Linked DNA regions of Homo sapiens: region 2 is linked to region 1. The links come from fine-mapping of genetic effects on gene expression. A gene starts in region 1. The other region holds a variant in brackets. All regions are shown on one strand. Distances are between the middles of the regions. Region 1 holds the start of MTCL2 (microtubule crosslinking factor 2). Region 2 overlaps CNBD2 (cyclic nucleotide binding domain containing 2).

What was found. PIP is the estimated chance that this variant, and not a neighbour inherited with it, causes the effect.
Region 2: its variant is fine-mapped to the expression of MTCL2 in esophagus mucosa (GTEx, PIP 0.96).

The regions. Positions count from the first base shown.
Region 1 is chr20:36,857,415-36,868,999 of GRCh38, forward strand. It overlaps MTCL2 (microtubule crosslinking factor 2), which reads right to left and starts at 6,124. Exons shown (of 15, transcript NM_080627.4): 1 at 5,244-6,124. The coding sequence starts at 5,930. RefSeq lists enhancers at 1-213, 214-714 and silencers at 5,724-5,873, 5,944-6,833, 9,675-9,744.
Region 2 is chr20:35,995,302-36,006,886 of GRCh38, forward strand. The region is part of intron 8 of CNBD2 (cyclic nucleotide binding domain containing 2); the gene reads left to right. Among named protein-coding and RNA genes, the nearest start is that of CNBD2, 33 kb to the left of the region's middle. The variant C/T (reference allele first, on the strand shown) is at 6,203.

The DNA of each region.
Region 1 (11,585 bases):
GTCTGGAGGCGTGCTTCTGAAAGCATCCAACACCAGCGAGTCACTGGATGGGTCTGTGAGATGTGTGCAAGTGGCTGTGTGTCTCTGAGCTTGAGCTGTGAACAGTATATGTGCATTTGTATGTGCAAGACAGAGTATGCCCAGGGACACAGGCTCAGCCCCAAGGAGGCTGCGGCTGGGACTCAGGGTAAGGAGCAGCCAAGAGCTTTGCTGACTGTGGTGACCTCCTCTCCTCCACCCAGTGACAGACTAGAGTCCTCCCCCTGTAGCTCCTGGGAGCCAAGAAGAGAAGAGCTACATGCAGAAGCCTACTACGTGGCCACTGGGTCCAGACACCCAGCACAGGGCCTGGTACCCAGGAGCCACTGGGGAAATATGTGTTGAATGAATGAATGAATGCCTGGAGGAACGGATAAGGGATCGGCAATGACTGGGACACACTAACACTCACTGTGCACTCCATCTGCGTCCTCACATTGAAAAGGGTCCTCACGGCCCTGGGCGGGCGTGCTTGTCCCCCATGTTACAGAAGGAACAATCTCACACACATGCACACACAAACATCCTCCACTAACCCCCACCTCCCCCAGGCTCCGGGCCCCCAGCATGCCTTAGCCTAGAGCCTGGCCCATGACAGGATTCCTCTCACCAAATGTGTCTCAGCCTAGACACGCTAGTTAACAACCAAAAGCTCACTGCTCTGGTCACACTGCAGAAAGAACAGGCCCAGAGTTAGACAAACCTGGGTTGGAATCCTGGCTATGTAATTTAGAGCCTCCATTTACTGATCTGTAAAATGGCAAGTGGGGATGGATTAGGTGCTTCCTCCAGGCCCTTCTGAGCTGACATCTAGACTGGCTGCACTTCACTCACATCTAGAATCACCAAGGAGGGAAAACACACACACACACACACACACACACACACACACACACACTGGCTGCACTTCACTCACATCTAGAATCACCAAGGAGGGAAAACACACACACACACACACACACACACACTGGCTGCACTTCACTCACATCTAGAATCACCAAGGAGGGAAAACACACACACACACACACACACACACACACACACACACACACACACACACACACACACACGGCAGGGAAGGTGATCACACCTTTCCGTTCTCCCTGGGGCAGCTACTGATGTATTAACATTCTAAAACTAAGGAAATCCACCCTCCTGCATTCTCCCAGTTCCTCCAAGAATGAAGACACAGACATCCTGTCTGCCTATTGGCTATGAATAATAACAATTCCTCAGGCGACTTGGGTTCACTGCTTGCAAAATGTTTTCTTGTCTATTCACACTTCCCTGATTCCTGATGACCATCGTATGAGGTTGTCCAGGCAGGTTCCATCACCTTTACTTATTTTTTTTTGAGACAAGAGTTTCACTCTGTTGCCCAGGCTAGAGTGCAGTGGCGCCATCTCGGATCACTGCAACTTCTGCCTCCCAGGGTCAAGTGATTCTCCTGCCTCAGCCTCCTGAGTAGCTGGGATTACAGGCGCCCACGACCACGCCTGGGTAATTTTTGTATTTTTAGTAGAGATGGGGTTTCGCCACGTTGGCCAGACTGGTTTCGAACTCCTGACCTTAGGTGATCCGCCCGCCTTGGCCTCCCAAAGTGCTGGGATTACAGGCGTGAGTCACTGCGCCAGGCCCCATCACCTTTATTATACAGATGAGAAAAAAAGCAGCTCAGAGAAGCCAGGTAACTTGCCCATGGCCACACAGTAAACGGGAGAGTCAGGTTTCAAAGTCAGGTCTTCAGACTCCAACTCTCAGATTCCTCCATCCACACCCAGTGGGTTCCTACATGTTCTGGCCACATGGTACGTGCTTAATGGTTAGTGGTGATGAAAGGCTGGAAGACCTCAGATCACCGGGTCTTTGAAGGTCTCAGGTGACGTGTCTGCTCGGCAGCTAAAGCTGCATCTTAGAATCCTGGCACCTCAGTAGTTAATAACCTTCAGACTTCCTTGGCTAGAAGGGACCCAAGGTCAGGCAGCTCAACTGCAGCCACCACATCAATCTCCCTCTGAACCCTTCTCAAGCAATCATTCCACAAACCCTCTATCTTTATCCAAGCATGCAAGGTCATCCCGCCTCTCTCTGAATAATTAAAGTGACAGTGAGCTCACTACCTTCTCTGTAGAAGCTCCTTCTATCTTCTCACTGGGAGAGAGTTGCCCGATTTATGCTTTCCTCACTTGGACCCCAGAGCAGACCATACCAGACTGGAGATCACAGTCCTTCGCAGTTGACAGTTCCCAGTGACCCCTACAAGGGGGAGGTAAGCCTGAGCAGGGCCACCCACCAGACCTGGTGGGACCTCCTTCAACTCTGCTCCTGCAGGGGACATACTGGGGATTTGGAGTCCTTTCCCTTGTACTCAGTTTCTGCATCTTAGAGGCAAAGTAGTCCAGAAAGGCAGAAAACACATCAAGAGTCTAACACATGCTTACTCCAAGCCCTGGCAGCCTAGCGACCCTGCTCTGGGACCCACTCTGGCCACAGTTTTCCCATCTGTGGAATAAACAACACAACACCTCCAGTAATAACCCCTCTATTTATGGTCCACATTTAGTCTCTGGATTTTGACCCTGCCTCTGTGAGGCTGGCGGCTGGGATAAACAGATATACAGAGAAGTTAAGGGACTAACCCAAATGTACACAGTGAGAAGTGGCATGGGCTGGCCTTGCTCTCCTCTCTTACCCACACTCCTTCCCCTCTCTGGCCTTAGCGCTGTTCTTGAACTCAACGAGCATTCCAATTTCCCTTAGCCTGAAATCTTCTTACTCCAGACCCTCACTCAGTTGGCTCCACGGCATCCTGCAGCCCTCAGCCTCCCTGTGCACCCCAGCCCCCACCTTCGTGTGCTCCTGGCAAACTGTCCCCTTTACCCTCATTATGATCTGTGTTGTGATTTCTTGTATGACTATTGTTTAATTCTGGTCTCCCCAAAAGCTCTATGAAAACAGACACCTCATCCTCCCTTGTCCACAGCTGTATCCCAGATCTGCCCTAGCACACGGCAGGTTCTAAATAAACAGCTGCCGAATGAACCAATGAGGGGCCAGGAGAAAGAGCCCAGCCTGCCTTGGGTGATGAAGAGGATCTATTCTGCCCTCACAGAATCCACAAGAGAACAGGCTGGGTGCACATGGAAACATGTCCCGTGCCTCTGACAAGAGCAGTGATCAGAGGTTTACTACATACCAGGTGCTCTAATGGTGTTTGCAGGAATCAGCTCATTTAACCGTTGAGGTTGGAAAGCGTGTTACTGTCCCATTTTTACAAATGAGAAAGCAAAGGTCCAGGGCCTTTAAGTAACTTGCCAAAGATCACGCCGTCAGGAAGCGACAGACCCCAGATCCAATAGCAGCACGAAGCCTGAGCCACTGAATGAATGGTGGAAATTACGGTTCCATCTTGGCCCAAACGTGGGATGTCCCCAGCTGGACCCCGGCCCCTGTGAGATCCCGGGCTCAACCCCCAGCCTCCTGGGACTGTTTTCCCCTTTAAACAGTCATGGGTGCCTCAAACAGACTTTGGGTCAGAGCCTGATGACTTCCTGGGATGGACAGGGGCCCATGGAGATGGGTGCCTAGGAGCCCTGAAGCAAAGCTCTGCAACCCATCCCCCTTCACCAGAGTGAGTAGCAGGAACCGGGAGGCAGGGGTGAGGAACTCAGAGTTTCGGTTAAGGCCAATTCAGGCAGCACTCACTGGAAGCAGCTCAGAGCACCAAGAGGGCAGGAGCAAAAGACCCTTGTCCTGGCTCGTCACCTCCCTCCTCCTCCTCACCTTCCACTTGCCCTCTCCTTACCACCGGCTTCTGAAGACTCAAAGAGCCGACTGAACTCCCAGTTGCCAACACCGAACCCGGCCCTTGGGAAGACATCCTCCCATTTAACGGATGAGGAGACTGAGGCCTGGCTTGGGGAAAGGTGTCTCTTGATTCAGACAGACCTTGTCCTTCCATACTACAAGCATTTACAGAACTCAGGCTGGAGAGCAGATCCCGGGGAAAATGGGGAGACAGAGACATAGTTGAGCAAGACACCAACACTCTAATGAGGGAGAAGCCCATTTGGTCAGAAGAGCCACAAGGAAAAGTTAAAACCTAAGTGCTGAGGGCAGACATAAACCAGCAGCATGCTGTGAGCTCCACAGCCAGGGGCACTCTGGGTGTTGTGCCAGGCCATCATCCACTGACAAGAGTCGGCAACATTTCAGCCTCCTCCAAAACCGTGCCCAGCCAGCGGCAGGAGAGCTCAGGAAGCTTCCAGCCTCCCAGGGAGAGGTCAACACGTGCAAGCTGGGCTGTCCCTAAAGCTGCCATGGCACCTGGAAGCGTGCAGATGGAGCCCGGCTGGCACCCAGTAGGTGCTCATGTCCACTGAAAAAGCAAAGGCAAAGCCTGCTGTCCGGGGGAAGCCCTAGGGTCCCCACATGGCCACAGGGAAGTCCTGTTCCAGGTGGGCAGTTGCCCTCCTCTCACTGCGAACATGGAAAGGCACTGGCCACGAGGGGCCAATGGGGCTGTTGTGTGCACAAGGTCTGCCCCAGGGAGGGCAAAAGACACTGTCCTGGGATTTAGGAAGCTGCCTCTGAACCGGTTCTCCCACGACATCATCCTCCAGGCTGTGGGACCGTTAGGCTGGGCGGAAGTGGACTCCAGCCAAGGGGATGTTCCCAGATGTCATGCTTTCAAACTGGACCCGCCCAGAAAGGCAGGCAGAGACAGGCCTGCGCCCGGGAAAGCCCTGGGTAACGACTCAGGATGGCATTCAGGCCTTTCCTGGGCAGGGGATGGCCACAGGTTTCCCTGGCGGCGGTGTCTATCAATCCCGTCCCAAGAAGGAGAGCCTGGGCGTGGAGGTTCTGGGCAGCTGAAGGCAGAGATCCATCCCTTCCCTGGCTACCCACCCCCACCTCAGCAACGCCTCCCAGAACGCTCCAAAGCTTTCTCAAGTCCCCGCTCCCAGGTTAGGGCCCTGTAGCCAGTTCCAAGGTCTTTTTCAGGAGCGCGCTTCCCAAATAAAGTTGAGAGGGGGCGGGGGGAATGAGGGAGCCCCAGATCCACCTCAGAGTGGTCCCCAGAGGGCTTGGGCCCCTTTCTCCGGATTGTTCAGTGGGAAGGAGGGCCGGCTGGTGCCTCAGGCCCGCGGGACTGTGACAGCCGGCGACCCCTGCGACCTCCCTTTCTACCCGGGCGCCCCCACCTTGAGATAGTCGTTCTCCGAGCGCAGCTCCTCCAGCTCCCGCACCAAGCCGCTGGGCCCGCAGTCCAGCATCTCCTCGGTGAGGTCGGAGAAGGCAAGCGAGGCGCTGAGCGGCAAGCGGCTGCTGCCCACCGACGACGCGGCCACCGACGGCTCGTCCGGGGAGGCGGGCGGCCGCGGGGGCTGCTGCGCGGAGGGCGCGGGCTGGGCCGGCTGCCCCGTACGGACCCCCGCCGGGCCCCCGGCCGCGGACTCGGCGTCGCTGCTCAGCGCCAGCTCCAGGCCCAGCAGGCGCGCCTCCTCCGACGCGCAGTCCGACACCTCCGAGCTGCTATCCGTGAGGCTGGGGGGCGGCGGTGGCGGTCGCGGCCCCGCACCCGAGCGCGGACGGCCCTTGGCACGGACCCCGGTGCGGACCCCGGCCACCCGCACACCCGCACCGCGCGCCCCGGGAGCCACTGCGCGCCCCTTCTTGTCCGGCCGTGAGGAGAACGCGGCGCTGCAGGCGACTGCTGAGCCCGGGCCTGGGCCGCGGCGGCCCTTAGCCAGCGACCAGCCGGCCACGTCTTTGGGCCGGGCCGGCGACGGCGCGCGGTGGCTCTTTTTCCTCTCCGGGGCAGGCGCGGGTGCAGGCGCGGGCTGGGGACCGCAGCCCCGGACCGGGGGCTCGGCCGCCGGCGCCTCCATCGCGGCCTCCCTCGGCCTCAGCGAGCTGCGCGCATGGCCCAGGCCCGCCCGGCCTCGACGTCCCTGGGGAGGGACCCGGCGCGGCTCCGGCCGCTGGGGCTGCGGCTGCTCTCGGCCCACCTCGGCCCCGACACCGCGTCCCCGTCCCAAGCCCCGCCGCGCGGTCTCTCCGCTGCTCTGGGCTCGGAGAGTGCGGCCCGACCGCCTCCAGGCGCCCCGGCTCCGGCTGCGGCTCCGCCCGGCGCCCGCCCCCTCGGCCTCGCCGCGCCCCCGGAGCGCGCCCGGGCCCCCGCCGCCCGCACGCCGATCGCTCCCTCGGGCTCCGAGTCCGGCTGCGGCCCGGGCCCCGGCTCCGCCCGGCGCAGCCCGCCCCCCGCGCAGCCCCGCCAGCTCCCCGCCCCGCCGCCTCGGCTCGGGGGCGCGCGGTTCCGCGAACAAAAGGCGGACGCGGCGGGAGCGGCAGGGAGGGACGCAGGCAGGGAGCGAGGGAGGGATCTGCGAGGCAACAGCGACCCCTTCGAGGGTCAGGCTGGCGCGGGCAGCCGCGGCCCGGGCTCCCTCCTCCTCCGCTCCGCCGCCTCCTCCCCTGCCCGCTCGGGGAAGGCACCCGGCGGAGGCGCCCCTGCGCCCGGCGTCCGGGCAGGGCCTGCGAGAGCGGCGGGAGCCGGGACTCCCGGGCCGAGGCCGGGCGGACCTCAGTTCGCAGGAACCCGCATCCATGCACGCCCAGCGCCTCGCCCCTCGCCCCGTGCCGAGCGTGCGCGAACTCCGCCCCCTTAGCCGGCATCGCCGGAGCCGCGATCCCATCGCACAGATGCGTAAACTGAAGCCTGGGGTGCACGCGCCAAGCTCACGGTCTAGGCGGCGCCGATGGGACCCAAAGCTCACACCTCCCGGGCGCGCTCGGGCTCCCCCTGCCTCGGCTTCCCTCTCCTGGCATAGGGACCGTGAAGCCCTGTGTGCATGCCTGGCTCGCGCACCTTGACCGGCGGATATTTCTCCCCATGCGCCCCCGACCCGGGTTTCAGGCTCTGTACGGCTAAAATGGAAGCGACCCGTAGCTAGGCGCGGTGGCTCATGCCTGTAATCCCAGCACTTTGGGAGGCCGAGGCGGGTGGATCACGAGGTCAGGAGTTCGAGACCAGCCTGACCAACATGATGAAACCCCGTCTCTACTAAAAATACACAAATTAGCCGGGCGTGGTAGCGCGTGCCTGTAATCCCAGCTACTCGGGAGGCTGAGGCAGGAGAATCGCTTGAACCCGGGAGGCGGAGGTTGCAGTGAGCCGAGGTCGCGCCACTGCACTCCAGTCTGGGTGGCAGAGCTAGACTCCATCTCAAAAAAATAAACAAATAAATAAAAACAAAAATAAAATGGAGGGGACCTATTACGAGATGTCAGCCTAGCGGATGCTTTGGAAGGCGGTTTTGGCCCCCGTGGGGGCTGGCATGGGCTGGGACGGTTGCCCTGACCCCACACGTCCCCACCAGGAGCAGTGCAGGAGGACTTGAGCTCTGATGGGCGTGTTTTCTTTCCTCCCGGGCGTCTGGGCGTCTCCTTGGCTCCTGGCCGTGTTGATTTTCCCATGTCTCTCACACCTTCCCCAGCCCCCACACCGCCTGGCCGCTACGCCCCCATCCCTGAGCCACCGCAGGGCAGAGCTGGATTGAGTGCTTTGCCCCACAGATGTACCCTCGTCCTTAGGGTGCCCCACACCCCTTGCCACCAGAAGGGCAGGGCTGTTTTTGCCCCTTTACAACCTCTTTCTCCTCCTGTTCTCTCCTCCCCCTCCCATTTATCCCCTGCTCTTTCTTCCTCCTTCTTCTCCCATCTTTCCCCTTCCTTTCCCCCCTCCTTTTCCAAGTCTTCCTTTTCCTCCTCTTTCCCCTCTTCTTCCTCCTGCCCATTTTCTCCTTCTTCTTCCTCCCCCAATTCCCTTCCTTCACCTCTGCACCTGCCTGTGACACAGCAGGCACCAGGTCCACTTCTTTGTCTCTGTCCCACCTCCCCCACACGCTGTGAATACACTCCTGGGGCATCCCCTCTCTCCAGAGGCATGACTTCATCTGGATCCAGGTGAGTGAGTGCTCCTCCACCCCAACGCTAGGTGCCCTCCATACGGCCAAGTGAGGAGCAGGCACTCAGCAGGCTCTTGGCAAACACTTCCGCAGGGGCATCCCCACCCCCTCCTAGCAAGACACCAGCTCCCCTCACGGCCCACTGACTGTCCACAAACCCTGTTTGCACAGGCGCCAGGTACACTGAGGGACGCAGTGGTGGGCATGTCAGTGCCTGAACTCATGGAGCACACAGTGTGTGTTGGGGGGGACCACAAAAGACTCAGCACAAACAGGGTGGCATGGCATGTGGGCAGGAGTGCTGGAGAAGGATGTGGGAGCCGCAGGCTAGTGACCCAGGGCAGGCCTTCCCACATTCCGGGCCTCAGAGTCCCCACCTGCTCTGGTCTAATGTAACAGATGACAGGGTCCATCCAGCTCAGATGCCCCTGGCTCTAGTAGGCTGCATCTAGTCTGGCACAGAAAGATGCTGTGAAGCTCTTGGAAAGTGTGTCCTCTCTCTGTGCTTCAGTTTCTGCCCCTGTGCAGAACATAGGTTTGGAGGTGTTGGGTGGTGTGAATGCAGGGACATAGCAGACCAGGCTGGCTCAGCCACTCCTGACACACCCTTGGTCACATCAGTGGTCCTGAGATTAGAGTGGCCTGCATCTCTCTTCTAGGGCAGGGATCTGAGTCCTGGCTCTACCACCTATCCTCTCTGGGCCCAACACTCATGGCTGGCCAGGGAGGGGCCTGTGGGTCCCACCTGCTCTGAGGTGCTTTGGATTTGGGGAGTCAAGAATCTACATTGTAGACCCAGGGAAGCCTTGAGAACAACAGGGCTCTGGTGGGGAGGGACTAGGTGGGGCTGACGTAGGGGCTGTGGACTCAGGGTCAGTTCAGACCAGGGATACCACAAAGGAGATAAGACTTGTTGAGAGTCCAGAACTGGCTACATTGTAGACGGGGTGACCGTCCTTGCGCCGGCACATCCTGCAGCTGTGTGATGCGTGGCCTCTTCCTGTGTGCCGGGCTCTGTGCTCCACATTTCAGTAAAGGATCTCCAAAAGGTGAAGATACTTCTTGTGACTGATTAATATTTTCCAAAGGGTATATCTCATCCCAATTGCTCTTCTTACAATGTGACACTGATGCTCCTCCAATTGAGCGGCACATGTGTGCGGCACGTGTGTGGGGGCACTGTGTGCCCCCACCTTGAATCTCAGCAGATCTTGTGACTGTCTCAACCAACAGAGTATGGCAGAAGTGTTCATCTGTGACTTCCAAGGTTAGGTCATAAAAAGCAACATGGATTCCACCCAGCTTGCTTCTCTCTCTCTTTCTCTCTCTCTGTCTCTCTGGCCACTCACCCACCATGATAGGAGGAAGCCCAGGCCTCATGGGGAGACCGCATGAAGGTGATCTAGCCAACAACTCCAGCTCTGGTCCCCACTAACCACCAGACATGTGAGAGAGTGAGCCTGCAGATGATTCAGCCCCCAGACTTGGAGCTGCCCCAGTGGACAAGTGGAGCAGAAATGAGCTGTCTCACCAACCCTGCCCAAACTGCAAAATAAGTATTGTTGTTTTCGGCCACTAAGTTTTGGGGTCATTTGTTACATAACACTGGGTAGCTGGAATGTGTGACCAAGGTCACACAGCTTGGATGTGGCAGGGCTGGGATTGACTTGAACCCAGAGCTGCCCAATTCCAGGGCCTGTTGTGGTACCCTATTGGGCTGCGAAGTGCCCAGCACAGACACACAGTGTGTGCTGCAGAAAGCGCTACTCAAAAGAGACTGAAGCATTACCTTGTAAGAATTATATAACATAGGAAGTGAAGATGCTGATTACCCAAGTAGAAAAACGGTTTCATTTCTCCCATTCAAGCTGCTAAATTGACCAACGTGATGAAAACTGAATGGAGACTCACTCCTGGAAAGCTTCCAAGAGGAGGTGTGTTTTTTCCTTTTAAACTAAAGTTGTTTTGTTTTGTTTTTTCATTATACAGATTAAAAAACAAGCAACTGGCTATGGGAAAATTAGAGGAATCGGTCGGGAAACCTCATTAAATAGGGGAGTCAGGAAGGCCTCTCAGAGAAGGCAGCCTTTTTTGTTTTTGTTTTTGTTTTTTGTTTTTTGTTTGAGATGGAGCCTAGCTTTGTTGCCAGGCTGGAGTGCAGTGGTGCAATCTTGGCTCACTCCAACCTCTGCCTCCTGGGTTCAAGCGATTCTCCTGCCTCAGCCTCCCAAGTAATTGGGATTACAGGCATGCGCCACCATGCCCAGCTAATTTTTGTATTTTTAGTAGAGACGGGGGTTTCACCATGCTGGCCAGGATGGTCTCGATATCCTGACCTTGTGATCTGCCCACCTTGGCCTCCCAAAGAGCTGGGATTACAGGTGTGAGCCACTGCACCCAGCCAAGGAGGCAGCCTTTAAACTGAGTTATTCTTTTTTTTTTTTTTTTTTTTTTTTTGAGACAGAGCTGTCGCCCAGGCTGGAGTGCAGTGGCGCGATCTTGGCTCACTGCAAGCTCCACCTCCCAGGTCCACGCCATTCTCCTGCCTCAGCCTCCAGAGTAGCTGGGACTACAGGCGCCCGCCACCACACCTGGCTAATTTTTTTGTATTTTTAGTAGAGACGGGGTTTCACTGTGTTAGCCAGGACGGTCTCGATCTCCTGACCTTGTGATCTACCCGCCTCGGCCTCCCAAAGTGTTGGGATTACAGGTGTGAGCCACTGTGCCTGGCCTAAACTGAGTTATTCAAGGAGCCACTGAACAGTTAGGGCCTTGCCTTTTTTTTTTTTTTTTGAGACAGTGTTGCTCAGGCTGGAGTGCTGTGGTGTGATCTTGGCTCACGGCAACCTCCACCTCCCAGGTTCAAGCAATTCTCTTGTCTCAGCCCCCTGAGTGTTGGGATTACAGGCGCCCACCACCACACCTGGCTAATTTTTTTTTGTATTTTTAGTAGAGACGGAGTTTGACTATTTTGACCAGGCTGGTCTCTAACTCCTGACCTCAAGATCTGCCTGCCTTGGCCTCCCAAAGTGCTGGGATTACAGGTGTGAGCCACCATGCCCGGCTGCTGCTTTTTCTTTTTTCTTTCTTTTTTTTGAGACAGAGTCTCACTCTGTTGCCCAGGCTGGAGTGCAGTTGCACGATCTCAGCTCACTGCAACCTCCACCTCCCAAGCTCAAATGATTCTCCTGCCTCAGCCTCCCGAGTAGCTGGGATTACAGGTGCGTGCCACCACGCCTAGCTAATTTTTTTTTTTTTTTTTGAGATGGAGTGTCACTCTGCCGCCCAGGCTAGAGTGCAGTGATGCCATCTCAGTTCACTGCAACCTCCACCTCTTGGGTTCAAGCAATTCTCCTGCCTCAGCCTCACAAGTAGCTGGGACTACAGGTGCCCGCCATCATGCCTGGCTAACTTTTGTATTTTTAGTAGAGACAGGATTTCACCGTGTTGGGCAGGCTGGTCTCAAACTCCTGACCTCAAGTGATCCACCCACCTCGACCTCCCAAAGTGCTGGGATTACAGTTATGAGCCACTGTGCCTGGCCCACTTCTGTTTTCTCAATGAAGAATGCAGTTG
Region 2 (11,585 bases), 860 kb before region 1:
AAGGCCCTGCCCTCCTTTCCAGCCTTTTTTTTTTATTGAGCCTTTTCCCTTTTGCTGTTTAGGTTCTCCCACGTGACCATCAACTCCTTGCCTCACATATCCCCCACCCTTTTTTTCACCCAGCTCTCTTCTGCTTTTTAAAATTTATTTATTTATTTGTTCATTCTGTCTCTGGATTTGCCTGTGATGGACTTTTCATATAAATAGCATCATACATTATTTGGCTTTTTGCATCTGACTTCCTTCACTGAGCACCATGTTTTCAAGGTCTATTTATGTTGTAGCAGATATCATTTCTTCATTCTGTTTTATGGCTGAATAATATTCTAATGTATGCATATACCACATTTTTTTTGTCCACTTATCAGTTGGTGAACATTTGGATTGTTTTCACTTTTTGGCTGTTTTGAATAATGTTGCTATGAACATTTGTATGCAAGTTTTTGTGTGAACATATTTTTCAGTTCTCTTGGGTATTACCTATATGCCTAGGAGTGGAATTTCTGGGTCATATGGTATCTTAGTCAGTTTTCTATTTCTATAACTGAATATCTGAGACTGGGTAACTTATAAAGAAAAGAAATTTATTTCTTATAGTTCTGGAGGCTAGGGAATCTGAGGTCGAGGGGCTGCATCTGGTGAAGGACTTCTTGCTGGTGGGGACTCTTCAGAGTCCCGGGGCAGCAAAGGGCATCACATGGAGAGGGAGCACTTCTGTCTTTGAGATCTTAGACTACACATTCTTCCTTGAAGAAGTCTTCCTGGTTTCTCATGCTGGACCAGATCTTCCATCCTCTGCTATATGCCATTCTAGTACCCTTCAAGTACCATTCAAGTACTCTTCTGTGTTATATAACCCCACTGAAATCATACAACTGAGTCTGAAATGCTTATTAAACATCTGTTTCCCTTGCTAGAATATAAGCTCTATGAAGGCTTTGCATTCCCAGGGCTTCGTATTATGCCTGGCATCTAGCAGGTGCTCAGAAGTGAATTACAGAGTTAATGGATAAACATATTTTGGCTGCTGTGTGTGGTTTGGACACATCCTAGGCTGTGAATGTATGCGCACTCTCCACAGCCTTATCCCAACTCAGTAACAAGTATGAATAACAGTGATCATTTATTGAATTCTAATTGTATGTTTATTATATTGGGCTTGACTGTTTATACATATTGCATAATTCTCATAATAGCTCTCTTTTTGTTTTTTTTTTTTTTTTGGAGACAGAGTCTCACTCTGTTGCCCAGGCTGGAGTGCAGTGGTGCAGTCTCAGCTCACTGCAACCTCTGCCTCCCAGGTTCAGGCAATTCTCCTGCCTCAGCATCCCGAGCAGCTGGGATTACGGGCACATGCCACCATGCCCGGCCAATTTTTGTTTTTTTAGTACAGATGGGATTTCACTGTGTTGGCCAGGCTGGTCTCGAACTCCTGACCTTAAGTGATCCGACTGCCTCGGCCTCCCAGAGTGTTGGGATTACAGGCATGAGCCACCGCACCTGGCCTAATAACTCTTTAAGAAGGTACGATTGTACCATCTGACACATGAGGAAACTGGCTCATAGGGCAAATAAGTAGCAATGTAGGACTGTAGAGTTGGGATTCTAACCCAGGCACAACTGGTTCCAAAGCCCAGACTTTCTTCTCTTCATAAATATCTCCAGCCTTCTTCATTCTCCATTTCCTGTTGTTGGACATAGACGTTGTCAAGTAGCAGCCTCTAGAACTGGCCAGGGTGATAACCAGGCTTGCTGATTCTAGGGTAGTATTGTTTCCATTCACAGCTCTGTAATGGCATTTTTATTTATTTTTTTCCCCTTCCATCCTCTGCAGATCTTTTTGTGTCACCCACTTGGGTCAAGGACCCCAGCCCTCAACAGATATTTGCAGTGGCTCAGATGTCTTATCTCTTACCTCCTGCTCAGTACTGGCATGCTTCCCCCCACTTCCCTTGAGATTGTAATCTGTGTATCCTGGGGCCTCCTCCCCAAGGATTGCCTTATAGATATAGCAGTCCTCCTGAGATTAGAACTGAGGCCAACACAGGGTGGCGAGGAGAAGGGCGGAAAAAGGAGAGGTTGGAGCTGAACAGAGCTGGGTTTGAGTCCCATTTATTAGCTGGGTAGCTTTGGTGAGTACTCAAAGTCTCTGGGCCTGGTTTCTTCATATCTACCTTGGGTAGTGTCATGGTTAGCAGCATAGGCTTGGAGTCCACTGCTTCTGTTTGAATACAGGGTCCTTCTCTTATTAGTGATGTGATACTGGGCAAGTGGGCCCTATGTCTAAGTGCACCAGTGCCCTCAGAGTCTGTAAAATGTAAATAATGGTCCGTACCTCGTAGGATTGTAATGACATTAAGCAAATTAATATATAAAAACTCTTAGAACACTACCTGGCTGCATAGGCAGATGGCAGATGTTTGTTATCATTACCACAACAGGCTGCTAGGAAGGCAGAGTGAGATGATGTATGCATGAGGCCTTATAAGTACTCAGTAAATGTTTCTTCTCATGTCAATTCTTGTTTGTCACTTTTCCACTGTCAATCCACCAGAGAAAAAGTTGCATCCCACAAATTTTGATATGTTGTATTTTCAATGTTATTCAGTTCAAAATACCTTTAAATTTCTCTTTTGATTTCTTCTTTGACCCATGGAATATTTAGAAGAGTGTTTAGTTTCCAAGCATTTGGGGGATTATCCACCTATCTTTCTGTTACTGATTTCTTTTTTCTTTTTCTTTTTTTTTTTTTTTTTTTGAGAGGGAGTCTCGCTCTGTCACCCAGGCTGGAGTGCAGTGGTACAATCTCAGCTCACTTCATCCTCCACCCCCCAGGTTCGAGCAATTCTCCTGCCTCAGCCTCCCGAGTAGCTGGGATTACAGGCATGCACCACCAAACCCAGCTAATTTTTGTATTTTAGTAGAGATGGGGTTTCAGCATGTTGGCCAGGCTGGGCTTGAACTCCTGACCTCTGGTGATCTGCCTGCCTCGGCCTCCCAAAGTGCTGGGATTATAGGCGTGAGCCACCACGCCTGGCCTCTGTTATTGAATTCTAAGATAACATACTTTATATGATTTGAATCCTCTGAAATGTATTAAAACTTGTTTTATGGTCCAGAATATAGTCTGTCTTGGTAAATGTTTCATTTGCATTTGAAAAAAACTTGCTGTTTTGGGGTGCAGTGTTCTATGAATGTTAAGTAGGTGAAGTTGGTTGATAGTATTGGTCAAGTCATCTGTACCCTTATAACTTTCTGTCTACTTGCTCTATCAATTGTTAATAGAGGCTGGCGTGGTGGTTCACGCGTGTAATCCCAGCACTTTGGGAGGCCAAGGCGGGCAGATCACCTGAGGTCAGGAGTTCGAGACCAGCCTGGCCAACATATAGTGAAACCCTGTCTCTACCAAAATAATACAAAAATTAGCTGGGCATGGTGGCGCATGCCTGTAGTCCCAGCTACTTGGGAAGCTGAGGCAGGAGAATTGCTTGAACCCGGGAGGCAGAGGTTGCAGTAAGCCAAGATCACGCCACTGCACTCCAGTCCGAGCGACAGAGCAAGACTGTGTCTCTCAAAAAAAAAAAAAAAAAAAAAAAAAATTCTTAATAGAGTTGTTAAAATCTCCAGCCATAATTATAGATATATTTTTCTCCTTGTATTTCTGTCTGTTTTGCCTCATATATTTTGAAGCTCTTTTATTATATGCATAGATGTTTGGGATTGAACTCTTAATTATTATGAAATGAACTTATTTGTCCCTGGTAATATTCTTTGCTCTAAAACCTACTTTTTCTGATGTAAATTCAGCCACTTCTTTTGATTTAGTGTAGCTTCCTCTTGATTAGTATTAGTTTGGTATATCTTTTTCCATCCTTTTGTGTTTAACCTATTTGTGTCTTTATATGTAAAAGTGAATTTCTTAAAGGCAGCATATAATTGGATCTTGCTGAAAGACCCAATTTTTATTGAGATGCCTAATCATTGACATTTAATGTTAATATTGATTATGGTTGGATTTGACTCTACCATCTTGCTATTTTTCTTTCTATTTGTCACATCTATTCCCTTTTTCTTCTGTTTTTCCCTGCCTTTTGGATTATGTATTTTGTATAATTCAATCTTATTTTCTTTGTTGGCTTATTAGCTGTTTGTGGTATTATTTTCACAGTTGCTTTATGATCATTGTATATACTTTTAACTTATCACAGTCTACCTTTAAGTGATATTATACCACTTCATGTATAGAATCAGAATCTTACAATGATATATTTCCATTTTCTCCTCCTAGATATTATGCTATTGTGATATATTATACTTTAATGTATATTAAAAACCTTACCATACATGGTTATTACTTTTGCTTTAAACAAGTATCTTCTTTTTTTTTTTTTTTGAGACGGAGTTTTGCTCCTGTTGCCCAGGCTGGAGTGCAATGGCACGATCTCGGCTCACTGCAACCTCCACCTCCTGGGTTCAAGTGATTCTTCTGCCTCAGCCTCCCTAGTAGCTGGGATTATAGGTGCCTGCCACCATGCCCAGCTAATTTTGTGTATTTTTAGTAGAGACAGGGTTTCACTATGTTGGCCAGGCTGGTCTTGAACTCCTGACCTCAGGAAATCCACCTGCCTCAGCCTCCCAAAGTGCTGGGATTACAGGCATCAGCCACCATACCCAGCTTAAACAAGTATCTTTTTTGTATATTTAAAAAATAATAAGAAAAGACTCTTATGTTAACCTACATAGTTACTATTTCTGATGTTCTTTGTTCCTTTGTATAGATCCAGATTTCTACCTAATAACCACTTCCTTCTGCCTGAAGTACTTCCTTTAACATTTCTTGTATTTCAGCTCTGTTAGTGATGAATTATTTCAGCTTTTCTATGTCTGAAAACTATTTTATCTTCATTTTTGAAAGAAATTTTTGCTGGATATAAAATTCTAAGTTGACAGGTTTTTTCTTTCACTACTTTAAAGATGTTGCATTAAAGTCTTTTTTGACTTGCATTGTTTTCAGCAAATCCGTTCATATTTTTATTTATTGTTTTCAACAAGAAGTCCGTTAACATTTTATTTATTTATTTATTTATATTTTTGAGACAGAGTCTCACTCTGTTACGCAGGCTGGAGTGCAATAGTGTAATCTCGGCTCACTGCAACCTCTACCTCCCTGGTTCAAGCGATTACCCTGCCTCAGCCTCCTGAATAGCCGGGACTACAGGCATATGCTACCATACTTGGCTAATTTTTGTATTTGTTGTTGTTGTTGTTGGTTTCTGAGATGGAGTCTTGCTCTTGTCACCCAGGCTGGAGTGCAATGGCACAACCTCGGCTAGCTGCAACTTCCGCCTCCCAGTTTCAAGTATTCTTGTGCCTCAGCCTCACGAGTAGCTGGGATTATAGGCGTCCACCACCACGCCTGGCTAATTTTTTTTTTTTTCATTTGTGTATGAAATTTTTTTTTTTTTTTTTTTTGATCATTCTTGGGTGTTTCTCGCAGAGGGGGATTTGGCAGGGTCATAGGACAATAGTGGAGGGAAGGTCAGCAGATAAGTGAACAAAGGTCTCTGGTTTTCCTAGGCAGAGGACCCTGCGGCCTTCCGCAGTGTTTGTGTCCCTGGGTATTTGAGATTAGGGAGTGGTGATGACTCTTAACGAGCATGCTGCCTTCAAGCATCTGTTTAACAAAGCACATCTTGCACCGCCCTTAATCCATTTAACCCTGAGTGGACACAGCACATGTTTCAGAGAGCACAGGGTTGGGGGTAAGGTCACAGATCAACAGGATAAGAATTTTTCTTAGTACAGAACAAAATGAAAAGACTCCCATGTCTACCTCTTTCTACACAGACACGGCAACCATCCGATTTCTCAATGTTTTCCCCACCTTTCCCCCCTTTCTATTCCACAAAACCGCCATTGTCATCATGGCCCGTTCTCAATGAGCTGTTGGGTACACCTCCCAGACGGGGTGGTGGCCGGGCAGAGGGGCTCCTCACTTCCCAGTAGGGGCGGCCGGGCAGAGGCGCCCCTCACCTCCTGGGCGGGGCGGCTGGCAGGGTGGGGGGCTGACCCCCCCACCTCCCTCCCGGACAGGGCGGCTGGCCGGGCAGAGGGGCTCCTCACTTCCCAGTAGGGGCGGCCGGGCAGAGGCGCCCCTCACCTCCCAGACGGGGCGGCTGGCCGGGCGGGGGGCTGACCCCCC[C/T]ACCTCCCTCCCGGACGGGGCGGCCGGCTGGGCGGAGACGCTCCTCACTTCCCAGACGGGGTGGCTGCCGGGCGGAGGGGCTCCTCACTTCTCAGACGGGGCGGCTGCCAGGCGGAGGGGCTCCTCACTTCTCAGATGGGGCGGTTGCCAGGCGGAGGGTCTCCTCACTTCTCAGACGGGGCGGCCGGGCAGAGACGCTCCTCACCTCCCAGACGGGGTCGCGGCCGGGTAGAGGCGCTCCTCACATCCCAGACGGGGTGGCGGGGCAGAGGCGCTCCCCACATCTCAGACGATGGGCGGCCGGGCAGAGACGCTCCTCACTTCGTAGATGGGATGGCGGCCGGGAAGAGGCGCTCCTCACTTCCTAGATGGGATGGCGGCCGGGCAGAGACGCTCCTCACTTCCCAGACTGGGCAGCCAGGCAGAGGGGCTCCTCACGTCCCAGACGATGGGCGGCCAGGCAGAGACGCTCCTCACTTCCCAGACGGGGTGGCGGCCGGGCAGAGGCTGCACTCTCGGCACTTTGGGAGGCCAAGGCAGGCGGCTGGGTGGTGGAGGTTGTAGTGAGCTGAGATCACGCCACTGCACTCCAGCCTGGGCACCATTGAGCACTGAGTGAGCCGGACTCCGTCTGCAATCCCGGCACCTCGGGAGGCCAAGGCTGGCGGATCACTCGCGGTTAGGAGCTGGAGACCAGCCCGGCCAACACAGCGAAACCCCGTCTCCACCAAAAAAATACGAAAACCAGTCAGGCGTGGCGGTGCGCGCCTGCAATCGCAGGCACTTGGCAGGCTGAGGCAGGAGAATCAGGCAGGGAGGTTGCAGTGAGCCGAGATGGCAGCAGTACAGTCCAGCTTCGGCTGGGCAGCAGAGGGAAACCGTGGAAAGAGGGAGAGGGAGAGGGAGACCGTGGGGAGAGGGAGACGGAGAAGGAGAGGGAGAGGGAGAGCCTAATTTTTGTATTTTTAGTAGAGATGGGGTTTCGCCATGTTGGCCAGGCTGGTCTCAAACACCTGACCTCAAGTGATCCACCTGCCTTGGCTTCCCAAAGTGCTGGGATTACAGGCATAAGCCACTGCACCTGGCCAACATTTTTATTTTTGTATAAACTCTTTATATAACCTTGTATATTTTCTGTACACAGTGTACCTTTTTGCTTTGGCTGATTTTGAATTTTTTTATCAATAGTTTTAAGCAATTTGATTATGTTGTGCCTTGGTATAATTTTTGTCATGTTTCTGTGCTTGAGGTTCATTTAGTTTCTGGGATTCCTGGGTTTGTATTTTTAAAATCTGATTTGGAATATTTTGACCATGATTTTTTCAAAAAAATTATTTGTCTCTCCCTCTCCTCCACTTTGAGAACTCCAATTACATGTATATTGGATTGCTTACAATCCAATATATTATTGGATTGCAACATGTATATTGGATTGCTGTGTTTCACAGCTCACTGATGTTCTGTTCATTTTTTTTATTCTTTTTTTTTTCCTCTGTGACATTTTGGATAGTTTCTATTGCTATGTCTTCAAGTTTTCTAATCCTCCTTCTGCATTGTCTAATCTGCTGTTAATCCCACCTAGTGTACTTTTCATTTTAGACATTTTAGTTTTTATATCTCAAAGTTTGATTTGGGTCTTTTTATAATTTCCACAACTCTACTTAATATACACAATATTTTTTCCTTGGAATATAATTATAATAGCTCTTCCAATGCCCTTATGTACTAATTCCATCATATGTGTCATTTCTGAGTCAGTTTCAATCCATTGTTTCCTTTTCATATAGTTTATATTTTCCTACTTCTTTGTATCCTTCATGATTTTTTAATAGGATGCTAGAAAATGTGAATTTTGAGTACTGCATATTTTTTATTCCTGTAAATATTTCTGAACGTTAAGATGTAGTTACTTGGAAGTATTTTGATCTTTTCAAGGCTTGCTTTTAAATTTGTTATGTGGGGTCAGAACAGTGTTTAATCTAGAGCTAGTTTCCCATTCGTGAAGTAAAACCATTTTGTGTATTTCAGAATGCCCCATGACTTGAGAGGTTTTCTATTCTAGTTATTGGGAAAAGGACTATTTCTGGTCCTGTTTGAGCTCTGATGATTTATCCCTCTAATCATTTGGGGTGATTCTTTCCCCAGCCTTGGGTAGTATACTATGTAACAAATTGCCCCAAAACTTAGCAACTTAAAATAACAGACATTTACTTCTCCCAATTTCTGTGAGTCAGAAATTTGGGCACAGCTTAGTTTGGTGCTTCTGACTCAAGACCTCTTATGAACCAGCTACTTGGGAGGCTGAGGCAGGAGGATCATTTGAGTCCAGGAATTCAAGACCAGCTTGGAAAACATAGCTGGACTCCATCTGAAAAAAAAAAAAAAATCTCTTGAGGTTGCCATTGTCAGCCAGGGTTGTGGTCTCATCTGAAGGCTCATCTGGGAGGGACCTGCTTCCAGGCTAACTCACGTGGCTATTGGCCAAGTGTCTGGCCTCATGGGTGTCTCTACAGGGCAGTTTCATGACATGTTTCCCCAAGAATGAGAGAGAGCAACAGAGAACATGCCCAAGATGGAAGCCACAGTTTTTTTATAACCTAATGTCAGAAATAAAATCTCATCACTTCTGCTGTATCCTGTTAGACGTGAGCCCAACCCACACTTAATGGGAGGGTATTACACAAGTGTGTGACTAGTAGGAGGTGGGGTTCACTGGTGGCCATCTCAGAGGCTGCCTACCACTGGTAGTTTCCCAATACACATGTGCTGATTAATACTCAGCTGAGCTTCAGGGGAAACTCTCTGCAGATCTTTGGAGTTCTGTCTCTATGCAGCTCTCTTCTCTCTGGTTCCCTGCTCTGTGGACTCTAGCTGCCTTGCCCTCCCCTGACTATGTCTTCTGTCTCATCAATTCAAGGAGATTGCTGGGCTCCATCTGAGTTCCCCCTCCCTGCACCATGGCCCAGAAAATCTTTAGGCAGCATGCTGGGGCAGTAGTAGGGCTCACCTCATTTGTTTTCTGTCTTGCATCATGGATGATTGTCCTTTATTGCCTGATATTCAATGTCTTTTTTTTTTTTTGAGACAGGGTCTCACTCTGTCACCTAGGCTGGAGTGCAGTGACCTGTTCATAGCTAATTGCAGCCTGGACCTCCTGGGCTCAAGCAGTCCTCTCGCCTCTCCTGAGTAGCTGGGACTATAGGCATGAGCCACCACACCCACCTAATTTTTTATCTTTTTGTAGAGATAGAGTCTCACTATGTTGCTCAGGCTGGTCTTGAACTCCTGGCCTCAAGGGATCTTCCCACCTCAGCCTCCCAAAGTGCTGAGATTACAGGCATGAGCCACCGCATCTATCCTTCAATGTCTTTAAAACAATTTTTTCCATAAATGTTGTCCAATATTTTCAAGTAGAAGAGAAAATTTAGTCCCTGTTATTCCATCTTGGCTGGAAGCAAAAGCAGAAGTCTAGATCTATGTTTTTAATAGTTGAGTTTTATTCTATTATATGCATATATCATAATTAATTTAATTACCTTTTACAGATATTTTGAATTCTTTTTCAAATGTTTACCCTACTGTGGCAGATTTCCTGGTGTGTTTGTCTTTGCATCTGTGTGCAAGGAAACGTATTAGACAAATTCTGAGAATTACTGGATCAAATAGTTCAGCGGTCCCCAAACTTTTTGGCACCAGAGGCTGGTTTCGTGGAAGACAATTTTTTCACAGATGGGGGCAGGTGGTAACGCTTTTGGAATGAAACTGTTCCACCTCTGATCATCAGGCATTAGATGGAGCACACAACCTAGATGCCTCTCATGCACAGTTCTCAATAGGGTTTGTGCTCCTATGAGACTCTAATGCCGCCACTGATCTGACAGGAGGTGGAGCTCAGGTGATAATGCTCATGCACCTGCCACTCATCTCCTGCTGTACAGCCTCATTCCTAACAGGCCACGGACCTGTACCAGTCCATGGCCAGGGGATTGGGGACCCCTGAAATAGTTAATCCAGTGCATACTGACTACATACATTTAAAACATTGGTAGATGTTGTTGAAGTGCCTTTCCGAAAGATCAAACTCAGGGCTTTTTATATGTGTTTTGTTAAGCCAGACCTACTGCTTGTGGAACTTGGATTTATTCCCATTAACATTAATTTGAGGGGCCGGGCATGGTGGCTCACACCTGTAATCCCAGCACTTTGGGAGGCCGAGGTAGACGGATCACGAGGTCAGGAGATCGAGATCATCCTGGCTAACACGGTGAAACGCTGTCTCTAATAAAAATACAGAAAAATTAGCCGGGCATGGTGGCGGGCGCCTGTAGTCCCAGCTACTTGGGAGGCTGAGGCAGGAGAATGGTGTGAACTTGGGAGGTGGAGCTTGCAGTGAGCCGAGATCAAGCCACTACACTCCAGCCTAGGTGACAGAGCAATACTCCATCTCAAAAACAAAAAAACAAAAACAAAACAAAACAAACAAAAGACATTAATTTGAAGAGTTGATTCTCATACTAGAGATTTTTTTTTTCTTTTTTTTTTTGAGATAGAGTCTTGCCCTGTCACCCAGGCTGGAGTGCAGTGGCACGATCTTGGCTCCCTGCAACCTCTGCCTCCCAGGTTCAAGCAATTCTCTTGCCTCAGCCTCTGGAGTAGCTGGGATTACAGGCATGCACCACCATGCCCAGCTAATTTTTTGTATCTTTAGTAGAGATGGGGTTTCACCATGTTGGCCAGGCTGGTCTCGAACTCCTGACCTCTTGATCTGCCCGCCTCGGCCTCCCAAAGTGCTGGGATTATAGGCATGAGCCACCACACCCGGCTGGAGATCTCTTTTTTAATCAATGTTCTTGACGTATAATTTTTATATAATAGAGTGCACATATTTTATGTGTATAGTTAAATGACAAATTAGAAAAAAAATTCTTTTTGAGACAAGGTTTCACTTTGTCACCCAGTCTGGAGTGCAGTGGCATGAACATGGCTCAATACAACCTTGACCTCCCAGACTCAAGTAATCCTACCACTTTAGCCTCCTGAGTAGCTGGGACTACAGTCACATGCCACCACACCCTGCTAATTTTTGTATGTTTTGTAGAGACGGGGGTTTGCCATGTTGCCCAGACTGGTCTCGAACTCCTGAGCTCAAGCGATCCTCCTGCCTTGGCCTTCCAAAGCGTGGGATTACAGTGGCGTGAGCCACTGCGCCTGGCCATAGTTCCATGACAAATTTATACCTCTACAATCAAGTTATAGAACATTTCCATCACCCCACAAAGTTCCCTTGTGCCGCCTCCCAGTCAATCTCTACCCCTCACCCTTGCCCTAGGCAACCACTGATTTGTTTTCTATCATTATAGGTTAGATTTGTCTTCCTATGGTT